Linked DNA regions of Homo sapiens: region 2 is linked to region 1. Evidence: fine-mapped expression QTL. Tissue or cell type: subcutaneous fat. Region 1 holds a variant in brackets; the other region holds the start of a gene. All regions are shown on one strand. Distances are from middle to middle.

The links. PIP is the estimated chance that this variant, and not a neighbour inherited with it, causes the effect.
Region 2: it holds the start of OFD1, and the variant in region 1 is fine-mapped to the expression of OFD1 in subcutaneous fat (GTEx, PIP above 0.99).

The regions. Positions count from the first base shown.
Region 1 is chrX:13,775,606-13,783,826 of GRCh38, forward strand. GPM6B (glycoprotein M6B) reads right to left here. Exons shown (of 8, transcript NM_001001995.3): 4 at 7,760-7,916; 5 at 4,213-4,384; 6 at 1,747-1,820; 7 at 633-698. Among named protein-coding and RNA genes, the nearest start is that of GPM6B, 37 kb to the right of the region's middle. The variant C/A (reference allele first, on the strand shown) is at 3,539.
Region 2 is chrX:13,730,809-13,738,808 of GRCh38, forward strand. OFD1 (OFD1 centriole and centriolar satellite protein) reads left to right here and starts at 3,940. Exons shown (of 23, transcript NM_003611.3): 1 at 3,940-4,275; 2 at 4,440-4,538; 3 at 5,670-5,870. The coding sequence starts at 4,264. TRAPPC2 (trafficking protein particle complex subunit 2) reads right to left here and starts at 3,812. Exons shown (of 6, transcript NM_001011658.4): 1 at 3,717-3,812; 2 at 3,236-3,377. RefSeq lists enhancers at 3,314-4,513, 4,282-4,853.

The DNA.
Region 1 (8,221 bases):
TAGAGCTATTGGCCATGAATTCAATATTAAGGAATCAACAATATATATTAAATACGGTGTATTTACACAGAAACACACGAAACAAGCTTATGTGTTGATAGGTTGCTGAAAATGATGTGACCAGAGGCTCACAGAAACCTAGCCATGTATTTCCCCTAGGAGCAGTGGTCCAGCATTCGCTAATTCATTGCTTGAGGTGACTTTATGGAACACAGCTACCCTGTATGAGTGACTATATAAATGTATGTATATGTGCATATCTCCACTTGTAAATTAATATCCCTTGGCAAAGAAATGGGTAATGCCTCACGTGAGCATTGCATCTGTCTGCGACTGAAGTCATGAAGCTAAGTGCTCAGTGCAACAAGGTAATATGCTAGGCCTAGTTGATAGGTGTTGATACCCTCTTTTCTTTCCAGAGTCCAAATTACATCACCTACAATCAGTGCCAAGGCAACCAACTAATACTTTCTGTAAACTACATGTGGTAAGTTAACACAGGCGCCAGTTAACCAAGGTTGAGTGCCAGAATCATTGGCTTCAATAGGCTGGTAAAAGCTGGAAGGGAAATCTGTCATTTAGAAGCTGGAGGGAGGAGGCTAGACTAGGGTGGTCTTGGGGCCATTACTCACCAGGGCAATGACGGTGGCACCAGCTCCTGCACAGGCCACAATGAACAGGTGATAGGACATGTAGAACTACAAAAGAACAGGGCATCAACATAAGCATTTGATGTTAAATGAAATGGCCTACACTCATTGTGGGGTGCTGCTTCATCTGTCTCCTTTGCAGCTCTTCTCTGCAAGACTGGGCACAGGCCTGCCTTCTCTTCATGCTCTGGCCTCATGGTGGAATCACCCGAGGAGCTTTAAAAACTTTCTGATGCCCAGACTGCCCCCCAAATCGATTAAATCTGAATACCTAAGGGCTGGGCCTCAGCCATCAGTATAACATAGTGCTGCCTTGATGGCTGTAACATGCAGCCACGGTGGGGAGCCCTGCTTCAAGCCACTGCATATTATGGATATACAAATTGACAAGTCAGATAGGGTAGGAGCTGATTATTTCTGTAACTCACTGCTTCTTAAAAGCTTGCCAGGATTTTCTTAAATATACAAGCACCTACGAATGCATTTAAGAATTTTCCTTTATAAACAGTTACAAGCCAATGACTGAAGAATGTTCTAGGGCTGAGACAATTTAAACCAAATTGTTAGGACACACTCCCTAGTAAGGACGAATGAGAATTAGAGAAGTAGCAAGTCATTCCAGAAATATAAATGATTAACTGTGGCCTCATTTATTAAAAGTTGGGTATATACACAAATTCCTCTATGAAATAGAGGGACTCCTCTATGAAAATTAACTTACATCCGTTCTGTGACAGGTGTTCTACTTTGAAAATCTTTCAAAGTAGAAAGAGTAGAAGTAGAAGAGGTGAGAGAAGAATCTAGATATATTATTAGATTTCTAGGTTTGGGATCACCTCTAAATTATTGCCCAAAGGAAAAGCCCTCCACTTCTTAAGGATTCTCACCAAATGTGTTGGACCATATGAAGTGACCATTTTTGTAGGTCAAAAATGGCTGAATAGTGATGGTTACATATAGCTCTATCTTAAAGATTCTAAACAAGGAGCTTTCCTTAATGGCATTTTAACCATCTCTCTCGCTCTTTCTACAGCTGGGAGAACCCTTTTTTCTCAGCCTAATACTCAAGGGTTATTCTGAACTGTGATGAGTTTACCTCGTTTGTGTTGCAGATGTTCTCCAGGGCAGAGCCACATATTTTTCCGGGGAAAGCATTCCAAGGAATGATACCTGTAAAATGAACCCCAATAGGATGTTAGTACAAACTATAGCGCCTCATGTTCTTAACAGACCCCACCACTTCGGATGCCAGTTACAGTGTAATTGTAGGCTATGTTCTTCATTAAGAATTGATGGATCTGCTGTCTGCAGAACAAGCATTTTGGAATAAATAGCCCCATTTGAACAATAGGCCAAAAGCAAAGCCAACTAGTCCATAAGAGATTTAAACAGCCTGATATTTTTTTCCCCTACAAATTGTGCTTTATTCAGTGAGGGTTCACATTTGGAAGTTCATATTTGTAAACATTAATTTTCAAAGCCAGGCTTTCCCTATAGTTACTGCAGGACAACCCCCTCATAAAGCATTTTATCACATTGAGGTCAAAATACATTTCCTCATGAATGCTGTGGTCTGTGGCCTTGCTGTCCAAGCTCTGTTACTGGTCTGCCAGGAGTTAAGTTCCAAAATTGCAAGTATACACTCAAACTTTCATGGCAATTTGACGGAGTAATTTATGTTTGTGGGAATCCAATAAAAAACTCTGGATTTGTACTTTGTCTTTGTTTTTATATTCATTTTTATTATGTCTTATAAACGTATTAGAAAATATTTTTGGACTGAAAATCAAATTGGTTTGTTTTTTTTTTTTTTTGAGACAGTCTTGCTCTGTCGCCCAGGCTGGAGTGGAGTGCTGCAATATTGGCTCACTGCAGCCTCCACCTCCCGGGTTCAAGCAGTTCTCTGCCTCAGCCTCCCAACTAGCTGGGATTACAGGTGCCTGCCGCCATGCCCAGCTAAGTTTTGTATTTTTAGTAGAGACGGGGTTTCACCATCTTAGCCAGGCTGGTCTTTGAACTCCCGACCTCGTGATCCACCCGCCTCAGCCTCCCAAAGTGCTGGGATTACAGGCATGAGCCATCGTGCGTGGCCGGAAATTTTTTAAAAAGAAAAAACACTACTGTCCTTTACCCCAGAGGGTGGGACAAGCAGAGTCTATGATTTCTCTCTCACTTAAACCCTGAGGCTCCTCTGCAATGACAGTTGTCCAGTGGGCTGCTGCTTTTTTTCCCCTTTAATGCATAAGTTTGTGCTTAAATATTAAACACTCCTAGGAGGTTAAGGAAAGGAGTATTAGAAGAAAAAAAATCCTTATTCCTTTCATCCTTGACACGGGCCAAGAGTACATCTTTATACTTCAGAAGCATGGGAAATTACCCCAAATTATCAGTGAAACCAGTAACTATAACAATAAATAGGCAAATATAGAGGATTTAAAAAGATGATTGCTGATTACCAAAAATTTGTGGCAAAACACTTACTTTTAAGGAATAGGAGAATGATATACATTTAGATATTCATTTACAAATAACTTTAACAGCCAACTTTAGGCTCCGTTTTTAGCTCTATCATAAAGAACAGTGTTGTTCAGCCTTGGTCTTTGTGAGAAGAGGTTAGTCTGATAGGTAGTTTCAAGCAAATTTAGTATTATGTTGTAAGGTAAGATGTTGAGACTAAGCCACATGAGAAAAACAGCAAAAATGAAATAGTCATCTCTCTTCAGAAAAGCTCTGGAAGGACAGTTATTTCCTCTTCAATTCTGATGAAAGCTATTCCCCCCCACCCCCGGTTGTTTCTGCCAAGAAAAGATTTCCTACCATGGTGGCTGGAAGCAGTAATTAGACTCCTCCCTCAGGATGCTGCCCTCTTACTCAGCTGCCCTCTCTTA[C/A]TCAGCAGCGAAGTCAAGTCCCAAATTAACTGACAGGAGGAGCCAGTGGTCTCTTCTGGGGTTTGTCACAATGAACCAACCTTAGATCCCCATTGTAAGGATCTCACTCATTAGAAAATGTTTGAACTGGTTTCTAACAGCTGATAATGATTTATAGAGTATGTTCTGATGACTTTAAAATATGGCTGGATCTAATGTTGTATTTTTCAATACAGATGAAGTTTAAGCAGTTGGTCATTTTAAAAAGACCAGATTTGAGGAGTTGGATGTGCAAATTAATTGAATTATACAATGTGTGCAATATTATTTTGAATGGAAAGTTGGATGTTATAAAACTGAAAATAAAGAAAAAATACAATCTTTTTGTAGCGGAGATCCAGAAGTCTTTTTTGATTGAACTGCATTATAAAGTAGTTTCATATTAAGAAAAGCTTCTTTCACTACACACTTAACATGAAAATATAACGAAATTTTGATACCTAGCAAGCTAAAAGCCTCCCTGAAGTTTCCACCCAGAAAATAGCATATTGAAGGGAAAAGTATAAAATTACTCTAATAGAAGGGATGAAACAGATCATGACAATTAAAAGGATGCGCATGTAATAATTAGGTCCAGACATATGCACGAGAGGATAATGAAATAACTGGGGGAGGGGTGAATTAGAAGGAAGTACCGTATTGTCGGATATCCACACAGATCTGCTCCACACCCGTGGTCCCGTTGGTCTGCGGTGACTTGATGACTTCACAAGTTGACCATATGTTGTAGAACATAAACACGGGCACCGCTGAGAAACCAAACACACCCAGCCAGGCCACTCCAAGCACATAGGTGAGGAAAACGAACTAGGCCAAAACAAGAGGAAGGACAATCATCACTGAAACAGGTAGATGTGTGTCCCCTAAGTGGAAGGATTGTGCATTTTCAGGCCCAATACTGACCTGTGGAACACATTGTGGGGACCCTCGCCCCGGCATTGGTAGCAAGAAGGAAAAGCCAGCACGGGAGCAGGGGAAGTAAGAGCCAGCCACATTCCCCAGAGCTAGAGGATCTAGAATTGGAGTGCCCGAAGCAATGTCAGGGCCTTTCGGGTCACTCTTAACTAACAAGGACAGGAGACCCCAAGAGGTGATCTCACTCATCCAAGGTCACAGAGCTAATCAGTGGCAGCCTCTCAAGAGGTGCTCTTTCTAAATAGCCGTTCTGAAAATGCAGAACATGCTACTTAACATGGGATAGATTCTGGATGTATTCCATATACCACTGAATTATAACTTCATATTAATTTCTCAAAAGTTACCTTTATTTTTCGTAACAGGTTGGCTCACAGAGAATAGCAATTGCCACAAGAAGCCCTCTCAAAAAGAACTTTGCTAGTTTCCTGATTCTGCAAAATTACCAAAAGTTTCAAATAATCACGAATACAAGCTTAATGCTCGATCTATAAAATTCTCATTTTCCTCTACTTTTCTTTTGTCTCTAAGATTCACAGCAGCTTTGCAAGCAAAGCAACGGCTTAGGGAAAAAGCTTCAGGTGTTCACCCACACACTGTCATGGGCAATCCAGGAAGAATAGAATCCCGTTGCTTGGCTTTCCTCTGCCTTGACCACTTTTCAGAGAGCTTTGTGAGGCGGCCTCAAAAACGTGGTATTTGTGTTCTCAGAAGGCGCGCCCACAGAGGGTGTGGAGTGCTAGTTTGGCTTTTCTATTTTGAAGCTGATGGTGGAGACCTGATGGTCACCCCTAACTTTCTGTGCTGCAGGAGATACCTGGGCGGTTGGAGGCCACCTCCTGATGGTCACAATGCCAGGAAACTGCAGAAACGAGACACTTTCCCTTGCACTGCAAGGAAGCATTTGCATCTCCAAAAATATTCAGAGAAGCAGATTTCAGCAGTTCCACCTCCCACTTCCTCCCACTGCTGCTCCAGACTAGGTTTCTTTCCCTTCAAAAGAAAACAGGACCTGAGCAGGAGGGAGCTGGTGGTTCTTGGCTTCAGTGAGCCTTCCCTTCTGTCAGAGGCCAGGACTCCAGAGGGAAGGCCACTGTCCCCCTCCCAGAGGTCCCCGCTGCGAGCTGGCCCTGTCATGGAGGCCTCTAGCGTCCAGAGCTGCTTCCTCAGTGAGTTCCTGGGCACAAACCTCCCACACAGGACTACGAAAGAAAAATCTCCAGACCCCCAAATCACTAAGCCAAAGGGAAAAGTCAAGCTGGGAACTGCGACAGGCAAATCCCCCATTCTATTCCTAAACAAGATAGCACAAAGATAAAGCTACATACCTCCCTCACAATTTGCCCACAAGGAAATTCCTCGTGGACAAAGGACAGAGCTCAAAGTCATCCCTCTGAGGCTCATGTGAGACAAATGCATATCTGATTGCTTCCTCTGCCCTGTCTTTTCACCAAGCCAGACCAGGCATAAGTGACTATTCCTCTACCCTCCTCTCCCATGTGAATTGTATATTCAATGAAAGGCTAATCAGAGACCCAAAAGAATGCAACCAGTTGTCTCTCACCTACTTGTGACCTGGAAGCCCCCTCCCTGCTTCGAGTTGTCCCCACCTTTCTGGACGGAACCAATGTACATCTTACATTCATTGATAAATGTCTCACGTCTCCCTAAAATGTATAAAACCAAGCTGTGCCCTGACCACCTTGGGCCCATGTTGTCCGGACCTCCTGAGGCTGTGTCATGGGTGCATCCTTAACTTTGGCAAAATAAACTTTCTAAATTGGCTGATACCTGTTTCAGATACTTTTGGGTTCACAGGACTGAGGAGACAAAGGCCTTTGGTGATGGAGTGGCAGCTTTGCTTCCCTAGCGGGCAGATCTCATCCACCTTCTCCACCTCACATGACTTTCTGTCCTGTTTCTGTCCCCAGCATCCTCAGCCCTGCCCCGTCACCTGCATCTTCCTCACACCCTCCAAGGCAGGTCAGCATTGTGATCTGTTAAGCGTATGGATGAAACGGAAGCACATGAGGTGCCAGTGGCCAGAGATGCAGACAGCGCATGAATGACTGGCAATGAAATCAAGCAAGATGGTCAAGCTCCTCTCCAGTCTAAGGGGGCTTTCGACTTTCTCCAACAAAATCTGACATAAGAGCTAAAAGCGGGCCATGCTAGGTGGGCTGTGGATCCCTCACAGTGTCCCCATCTCTAGGTGAAGTGCCACTAGCTCAAGTACAAACAAGCTCCTCTCCTCTCCACCATGTACTGTGTCCTGACCAATGCTCAAAGGATCCAAATATGTTAAACATCAGGCAGTGGATGACTTAATGCTGTGCCCTGGTGGAAACTAGACCTCTATTTTTGAAACTTGATGGGTAGAAGTGAGGGGGAAAGCTGTCATTTTAAAGCTGTGAGGAGATGTTTTTGGTTTTTTTTTCCTTTGGAGGAGGATTCCCACTATTTGTGGCTATTTTCCCTCTGCTTTCCACAGGCATTTTATTTAACAGCTGCCTCCTTCCCCTACAAAAGTAACCATTCCCCTGACTTGTACAGGAGGCTGAGGCAGGAGAATCGCTTGAACCCGGGAGGCAGAGGTTGCAGTTAGTGGAGATCGCGACACTGCCCTCCCCAGCCTTGGAGACAGAGTGATGCTCCGTCTCAAAAAAAAAAAAAAAAGAAAAAAAAAAAAATTCTTGGCTCTTGAGCTGTACAAAAACAGGTAGTAGGTCAAATTTGGCCCACAGCCCCTAGTTTGCTAACCCCTGTCTTAGACTATAAGCTGCTTGAGAAAGCAGCCTGTGTTTTAATCTTTGCACCTCTAGTGGCTAGCAAAGCCCAGCTAGGCGCTCTGTACAGCAGGTACTGGTAAGTATTTACAGAAGGATCAGGACGATTTTCCATGGTTCATGTATGTCTTTATGGCTATGATCCATATTTAAAGACAACCAAAGGGGAGCACTGAGACCACATGAAAGTTACCTCCTTCTATAGTGGGAACTTGGCATTTGAAAAATCTTCAGCACCCTTTTCACCTTTACACTGATGAAAACATTTGATTTATTTCTGCCAGCCATAGACTTTAGTTTACTATCAATAGCATGTTGAAGGTTTTTATAGTCCTAACTCTAAATTGGTAAAGCCAATATTTGTGTCATGGACCCTCCATTCACGCTCGATACCTGGTAGCTTTTGCCAAATACAAGGAAATACATCAAGGCATGGCTCTGGTTGTATATCAAACAATCAGTTATCAGAGGTTCAACTCACCATTCCACTGATGCATCGGCCACAAGCGGTTGTTTTAAACTCACCGTGCAGTTCTTTCACTGCACTTGTGGTGTAAAAGCCTTCTGCCAACAGAATGATCCCATACAAGAAGAAAAAGGACGCAATTCCATAGATGACATACTGCATCAGTTGTATCCTACAAAGAGAAGAAGAGATCCTGAACCATTAAATTCACTGCCTGGTAGTGACTACGTTTCTGGACGCTGGAGAGAGGACATGAGGGGGATGTTCCTGTGAGTGCGTCACTCGCCCCACTGATGGCTTTGATGGACTTGTGGGGCATCCTGGGCGGCATCCCTGCCCATGTCCCAGCAACCTGGGCCTTCCTTCCAAGGTGGGAATGATGTTTCCTTTGCTCAGGGCAGCATCCAGTTGTAATCTTTTAATCCTTACCTGAGTCCTGGGCGGCAAGGGTTAGAATCCTCATTTTGCACATAAGTA
Region 2 (8,000 bases), 45 kb before region 1:
TCACAAGGACAGAAAAGCAAACACTGCATGTTCTCACTCATAGGTGGGAATTGAACAATGAGATCACTTGGACACAGGGCAGGGAATATCACACACTGGGGCCTGTCAGGGGGTGGGGGGCTGGGGGAGGGATAGCATTAGGAGGAATACCTAATGTAAATGATGAGTTAATGGGTGCAGCAAACCAACATGGCACATGTATACCTATGTATCAAACCTGCATGTTGTGCACATGTACCCTAGAACTTAAAAGTATAACTAAAGAAAAAAGAAAACATCTAGACATTTCAATAAATCCAAGTCATCAGGTCCTGACAAATTATATACCTTGGATTAACAAATGTGATTGCATAACTGCTGATCAGTGACATTTGAGAAATTGCAAGAAAAATGCCATATCATCCGCTAGGTTAAATGCTATTCCTATTTTCAGAAACAGGAAAAAGGCTTATCTCCTAGTCTATAACAGGGTACATTCAGAGCGACTAGAACACCAACAGAAACGTGTATTAAATGTTTATTTTCAGTCAGATGCCATGCCAGGCACTTTTATTATACATTAACTCATTTAATGTGAATCCCTAGATAAAAACAGATTATTCATTCATATACTCCTGGTTGTACTAGAACAAGTCATACCAAATTTACATTTTTTGTTTCTGAAGGGAGATACGGTAGGTAAACAGAAAGTCATTTTACGAAATATTTTGGTATCTACCTAAGAACAAACTGGAGTCCTGGAGCCTGAGTGAAAATACAGTCTTGCTAGAATGTTGCCCTCCATGAGAGCAGATACACCATTCGTCTCATTCACTATGGTATACCTAGAGCTACAACAGTGCCAGGGACCCAGAAAGCACTCATTATTTGCTGAATGAGGGATGGCTCATAGCCGACTTGAGTGTCAATACTCGGAGAACATTGGGTGCTCCGTGTCAATTTATGGCACAGGGTCTCTAGTAAGGCTTTGAGGTTGACCTTAACCTAGTCTAGCTCAGTATTTGAATCAATAACTTGAATGAAGATAACTTATCACATTCAAAGATAACACCAAGGGCAGCTAACTTATTAGAAGGCAGAAGTTAGGATTAAAAAAGATCTCCATGGCTAGGAGAGTAAGGTGAAATTAACAAGATAGAAGTTAAGAGGATAAGAAAGCAAGCCCTGTACTTGGGCTTAAAAATCAACTGTACAAAAGGACAAGGGAAACCTAGATTAAGAACAGTTCATCTACATCAACCCAAAAGTTCTGCAAGCTCAGTAAGAGGCAAAAGTCTGATAGGTTTGTCAAAAAAGCTAATCAATTCTAGGTGGCATTAAGAGCAAGGTCAGGGAGAATGCTGATGTCCTCTTCAATAATATTATCATCTTTGGGGAAGGTACTCAGTTCTGGGAATCATATTGTAAAAGGATCAATAACTCTGTGTGTTACAGGGGAAGGGAGGGCAGGATCTAGGCTAGGAAATGCTCTGGAAACCAGACAAGAGCAACTGAAGTAACAGAGGATGTTTAAACGGAGTAGGGGAGACCTTTTTGGGGTGGAAAGGGAGTGGGGTACAGCACAGTACTATCTTTAAATACGATAAGCTATCTAATGAAAAAGGGACTTGGCTAGGGATGGCAAATGAGTTTCCTTTCATAAGCGAATTCTAATCAACTGGTAGTGACTGCCAGGAACTGGCGCTGAGAAAGATTCTGAGACTAAATGTGGTCACCAGGAAAGAATGCTGTGATCAATTATCCATGTCTGCTATGAATTTGGGGAAGTGCAGTACCTACAGGAGGGCCAAGTATTTGCTGACTCTGGACTACACAGACTTATTCCAAACCGTTCCATAGGCCAAGCCCAGGGCTGCTCATTTGAAGTCACTGGGAAACTAGAAACTAAGGGGTGGGTGGAACACCAACAGTGCCAGAGTGGGAGGATGCTCAGTGAACTTGGAAGTCTCTTAAGTTGTAGACAAATGCAAGATAAAACTCATGGACTCCAGTTCCAAAGACATCCATTTTTGTAGCATGCCTCTTTACAACCTCTATAGAAGAGCTTCTAGAAAAACTGCCCTGTGCTCGCGAGAGCAGTGATTTCAGTTGTTCCATAAACCTGGGGTCATGAGACTAAACTGGTATGGCATGGGACATGTCTATTACAATGAGGAGGGGCAGTAGGAATACTACTGATAGGTCTTTAATGTGACATTTTTCTATTAATATTATAAGCAATTCTCCCTCCCCTAGAAGTTATGCTAGTTTTTGGAGAACATTTTATCTAATTATATTCATGTATTCAACTGTGGGACCAAAGGTGGAGGTGGGAGTAAGGGGGTCTTCAGGAACATTTTTTTTTTTTAAACAGTGGACAAGTGATTCTACTTAACAACATTTACAACATATCAACATCTTTTTAGAACACTGTTTTCATCATTCCACTCAAAAGCCTTTGATGCATCTCAGCTACAGGATCATGTACTAGTATTCAAGATTCCCACATTGCTCCACGTGTCTTTTCTCAGCCCTATTGTTCCACCTCTGCTAGCGTTGACTCGTTTACTTATTTTTTCTCCCAAATTCACTTTGACTATATCGAGTTCAGAGCTACTATCATTTCTCTCTTCATGCCTGGAATGTTCTCCTTTATTCTGTCTGCAACCACTACCCATCCTTTAAAATCCAACTAAGCCTCTCCTCCTTTTCCATTGTTTCCAACAAAAACTTACAGGTTCTCCACCTCCTATGAAGTCCTGTCACTCTTACTGCCTCTTAAATACTTTAAGTTTTTCACAGCCAGAGATCAAAACTCATCGTACTCATCTTCAATGCTGTACACAAAGCTGACATCCAATTCTGTCCTCACAGGACTTAGATACCATATAAGGCTTATATTCCCAGCACACAACTCTGGAGTCAGGCTAGATTCCTCACTGCTCCCAAGAAGGTCGTGGCTTTTTTTTTTCTTTTAATGATTCCTTTGCTCATTTTTCCCCTTCCTGTGATGTTCTCCTTTTTGCTCACCACCCGAATCCTACCCATCAAGGCCCCGATAAAGACACACTTTTTCCACAGAGATGATCTGGATCACTTCCATCTTCAACCACCTCCCCTTTAAACTCTTTATCCAGTCTACAATGTATCTTAGTTCTTGTTCAATTCTCTGGCTGTAACATTTTCATTATCGCTTCTGAGAGGTTTGGTTCCTTTCCTTTCTAATTACATTTAAGCATCATGAGGACTGGCTCACCTTTACCTCACAGCACACAATGGTTGGTACTCTAAAACGTTTAGCTCTGTGGATCTCAACCCGGAGCGATCTTGCTTCCAAGAGGACATCTGGCAATATCTGGAGACATCTTTGGTTGTCACACTTGGGGGAGAAGGTGATACTGACAAAATAGAGAGCAAGGATACAGCTAAACCTACAATGCACAGGACAGCCTCCCAAAACAAAGAATCTTCCGGCTCCAAAAGGCAACAGTGCAGCCGTTAAGAAACCCTGGGTTAGCTGAATGACCCAGTGAACCGCGAAACCACAGCCCCCGAGAGGGCGGACGTCTGCAGGTGGAAGGGCTGCGCGGATGAGCCAGCGGAGGGCTGGCAGGTCCGGCCCGGCCACCCCGGGGAGGGGTGGAGGTACAGGACCAACATCCGCGTCACGCAGGGGCTACGAAGTCCTCCAGGGACTCAAAACACCCGCCCCCCGCCGCACTTGCTCCATTCCCTACCTGCAGTGGGAGGCCGACAACGGAAACGCAATGTCAGTTTCCGCGGAAGAGACCCGCGCCCCGAACCTGTAGCCAGAACGCCGAAGCAGTTCTCGCGATACCCTGGGATGTGCTCTCGCGATACGTAGGCGGAGCTTCCGGCCGGTGCTGGGCAACCAAGCTCATGCGCCGTAGCTCTTCAGCTCGGGAAGGCTATATTTAGCAGGTTTCCGGAAGTTGCCGGACTGGCTGTGAGGCGGTCCTGCCTCGCTGCCTTCAGTCCCTAGTGTCTGGGTCCCCGCCCTCCAGCCGCCTTTGAGTCGTGCCTGGGTCCTCGCCCTTGCCTCAGAACCGCGAAGAAAGGAAGCTCGCGTGTTTGCTAGAAAACCTAGTTGGGAGTGCGAGGCAGAGAACGTTCAGCACCTTTGTTCCTCCCGAACCCTCGGGACAGAGGCAGGGTTCTGAGGGCAGGGATTCCCCCTCGTCTTGGCCCCACCGCCCGGGCTGGGCACTAAACTCGGGCCGCGGCGGGGCGAGCGAGGCGGGCTCCGGAGGGAGCTGACGCCTGATGATGGCGCAGGTAGACACACCTGCCCCTTCTCGGGCGGAAATAAAGTCTTGTTTTGTGTTCGTTAAACTTTCGCCGCTAGGCCTCTTATGGCTTCCCCGGAGGCCACTGGTCTGTTTTCAGACGTTCACGTTCCCTCTGCCCCGCAGGTAACCTATAACCATTTTGTCTTTTAGTCCAACATGTTTACCGTGGCTGATGTGTTGAGTCAAGATGAACTGCGCAAAAAGCTATACCAGACGTTTAAGGATCGGGGTATACTGGATACACTCAAGGTATCGGATTTAGGCGTATCTGTGTCAGCTTTTACAAGTGTAACCTGTAACAGGTAGTTCAAATTCAATCAAGGTTTAGGTTTTAATAATCGTATGATACATAGATTGTATTGGTGAATTACATTTTTATATTCCCGAATAACTCTGTATCCTGAAACATTACAGTCTCTTGAAAATGTTTGAGAAAATGTTGAGTTTGAGTCGTCTTAAAGGAGCATATTCAAATAATTAATTGAACTGACAATAAGATAGGAGAAGGAAATATTTGTATAATGAACACAGTAAGATTAGGCTTGTTTTATAAATATGGCTTATAGGTTCCTAAATTAATAAGTGGGTTTGTAATACATTTGGATGAAGGACATTGACACCATATAGAAAATACTAGTGTACTGCTTAATAATAGTTTGGGAAATGAAAAATTTTATCTTTAAACTATATTGAAATGTATGAATGTTTAGTTTGGGCAGAAAATACCTATTAGTATGCTTTATATTTGGATTAACAGCCAGGAGTAGGATTAGCTCAACGTGTTTTCATTGAAATATGCATTTCAAAAGCATATTTTACGTTTAAAATATGTAGCTATATCCTGTGTATGTATCCTTTTTTAATTTAAATTATATGGTGAGCATTTCCCTGTTTCCTTAAAAGTTTTTTGAAATCTTCATTTTCAGTGGCAACAGGCTTATCTTTGGATATTTTTGTAATGTATATAGCAGTCCCCTGTTGTTGAATATTTTGGTTATATTCTCCAACAGTCCACAGAGGTGTGATGAAGTGGCAGAATTTTTTCCTATACTTAATATCCCAATCGTAAGCTGCTGAAATGGGCTTCTAGGGAAGTGAAGTTATGAGTCTGCAAGTGGATCTGGCTAACCACCCGTTTCATTTGGAAGCTGGGGAAAGAAAGCTTTTTCTAGAACCCACTGGACTGCTTGTCTCACGGGGTAAGACAAAGTGTGCAGGGGAAGGTTTCTAACTTCTGGCCATGGATCTAGAACCATTATGGAAATAGAAGGAAGGTTTCCAATGAATGTAGCTCATCTGTGTATATCTCTAATGAAACAGTCCTGCTGAAATTTCTTTCCCTTGTGTTTCTTTTTTATTTTTGTTTTTATTTTATGCTAGACACAACTTCGAAACCAGCTAATTCATGAGTTGATGCACCCTGTATTGAGTGGAGAACTGCAGCCTCGGTCCATTTCAGTAGAAGGGAGCTCCCTCTTAATAGGCGCCTCTAACTCTTTAGTGGCAGATCACTTACAAAGATGTGGCTATGAATATTCACTTTCTGTTTTCTTTCCAGAAAGTGGTTTGGCAAAAGAAAAGGTAAAGTCTTTCCTTTTCTGTTTCTGAAGTTTTTATTAACAGGTTCTTCCTCTGCTGACAGTAAAGTGCTGTATGATAGCTAAGTGCTCCTCGACTAGGTCCATTTCTGTTTCCTCTTTGAATTCACATTGTACCTGCACATAATATATTTGTTATATAACAAGTGGGTACTAAATTTGAAATTAATTTCTTGGCGTCTCATTTAGTCTCACATAAAACAGTGATGTATAGAATCTCTAAATGTTTCAGACCTATAATTGATCTATCTATCCTCTATCTTGTCTAATAAGACTCTGCCAATCTGCTGAATGTCTGCTGTAAGCTTGGCACTGTGATAGGCACACTGCAGATGTTTTGTGTGTTACGGATGAGGAACCAGACTCTGGAGAGGTGAATCAATTTGCCCAACATCAAGTAACTTTTAAGTGACAATGCAGGGTGGTAAATCTAGATCTCTAACATGAGCTCTTTTTTTCCTGCACTAGTTTCTTCAGATGTTTCTCTTTGTAATTAGATAAGTGAGAAATACGTAATTTAAAAAATCTGTAAAGTTCTCAAATATTAAAAACACTTGTTTTTTTTTTTTACTACTTTTCTAATTATTTTAACTATATTTCTTCACCATTACTGTTGAACATTAGTACTACTTTATTATTTTAAAGGCAGATACAGCAGACTTTCCCTGTGGATATGTGCGTGTTTTTTTTTTTTTAATAGACTTTATTTTTTCAGAGCAGTTTTGGGTTCACAGCAAAGTTAAGTGGGAAGTACAGAGAATTCCCATATACCTGCTGCCCCTACACACTCATAGCCTCCCCCACTGTCAACATCTTGCATCAAGGTGGTACATTTGCTACAATCTATAAGCCTACCCTGACATGTCATTATCACCCAGAGGCCATAGTTTACAGTGAAGGTTGCAGTGAGCCGAGATCATGCCACTGCACTCCAGCCTGGGTGACAGAGCGAGACTGTCTCAAAAATAAAATAAATTTCACTCTTGGTGGTGTTCATATGTTTTTACTTTCTTTGTGTTTTCTGTAATTATCCAAAAGTTTCATATTCCAAAGTTTTAGTGACACAAGCTTAGTACAGTATTTGAATGAAAACTTAAATAATTTGCATTTCTTCATAAGCAACCAAATTTTATTTGTCAGCATTAGGAATTTATTTATTAATTTATGTTTTTGAGACAGAGTCTTGCTCTGTTACCCAGTCTGGAGTGCAATGGCGCAGTCTTGGCTCACTGCAACCTCTGCCTCCTGTGTTCAAGCAATTCTCCTGCCTCAGCCTCCCAAGTAGCTGGGATTACAGGTGCCCACCACTACACCTGGCTAACTTTTTTATTTTTAGTAGAGAGGAGGTTTCACCATGTTGGCCAGGCTGGTCTCGAATCCTGACCCCAGGTGATCTGCCCACCTCAATCTCCCAAAGAGCTGGGATAACAAGCATGAGCCCTCGTGTCTGGCCTGGAATTCATTTTTGATACATCATTCTCTAACTTTCTAATCACTTTATACTTTTACTTATTGTGTAATAGTCAATAATACAATTATATAGCAGGAATTAATCCTATTCATACAACTTAACGGTTTCTACTAATGTAAAATGCCCATGCAGAATATTTACTTTAAAGGAAAACCAATTGAAAACAAATATCAGTGTTCTCAGAGCAGACATAGTGAATGGTATATACTGTAGTAGAAATATATTTTAATAGCTACCCAAAATGTCTGTTAAACAATATTTTAAGTACACTTTAATTACGGTTTTAAGGACAGTAAAAATCTATTTACATTTTTAAACAATGAATACTTTTTAAAAAATTGTAATTGAATGACCCAGGAACTCAGTCATGTAGTCATTGGTTCATCAGATATTTCAGTGTCATCTGTAAGGCATTAAACATTTAGGCATATCATCTTTGATGTGAAGTACTTAGAAGTTAATTAGATGATAAAGATATTTTATCCTTTTGACCTTGATATGTTTATAGTAATTTATTTAACAGTGTAAGAAAGAGCTTGAAATTTGCTTTATTAGCATAGTTATAATCTTATTTAATCTGAAGGATGTTTCTTAATTTCATATTCAGAAACATATCCTAATTTATCATTTAAACACTGATAT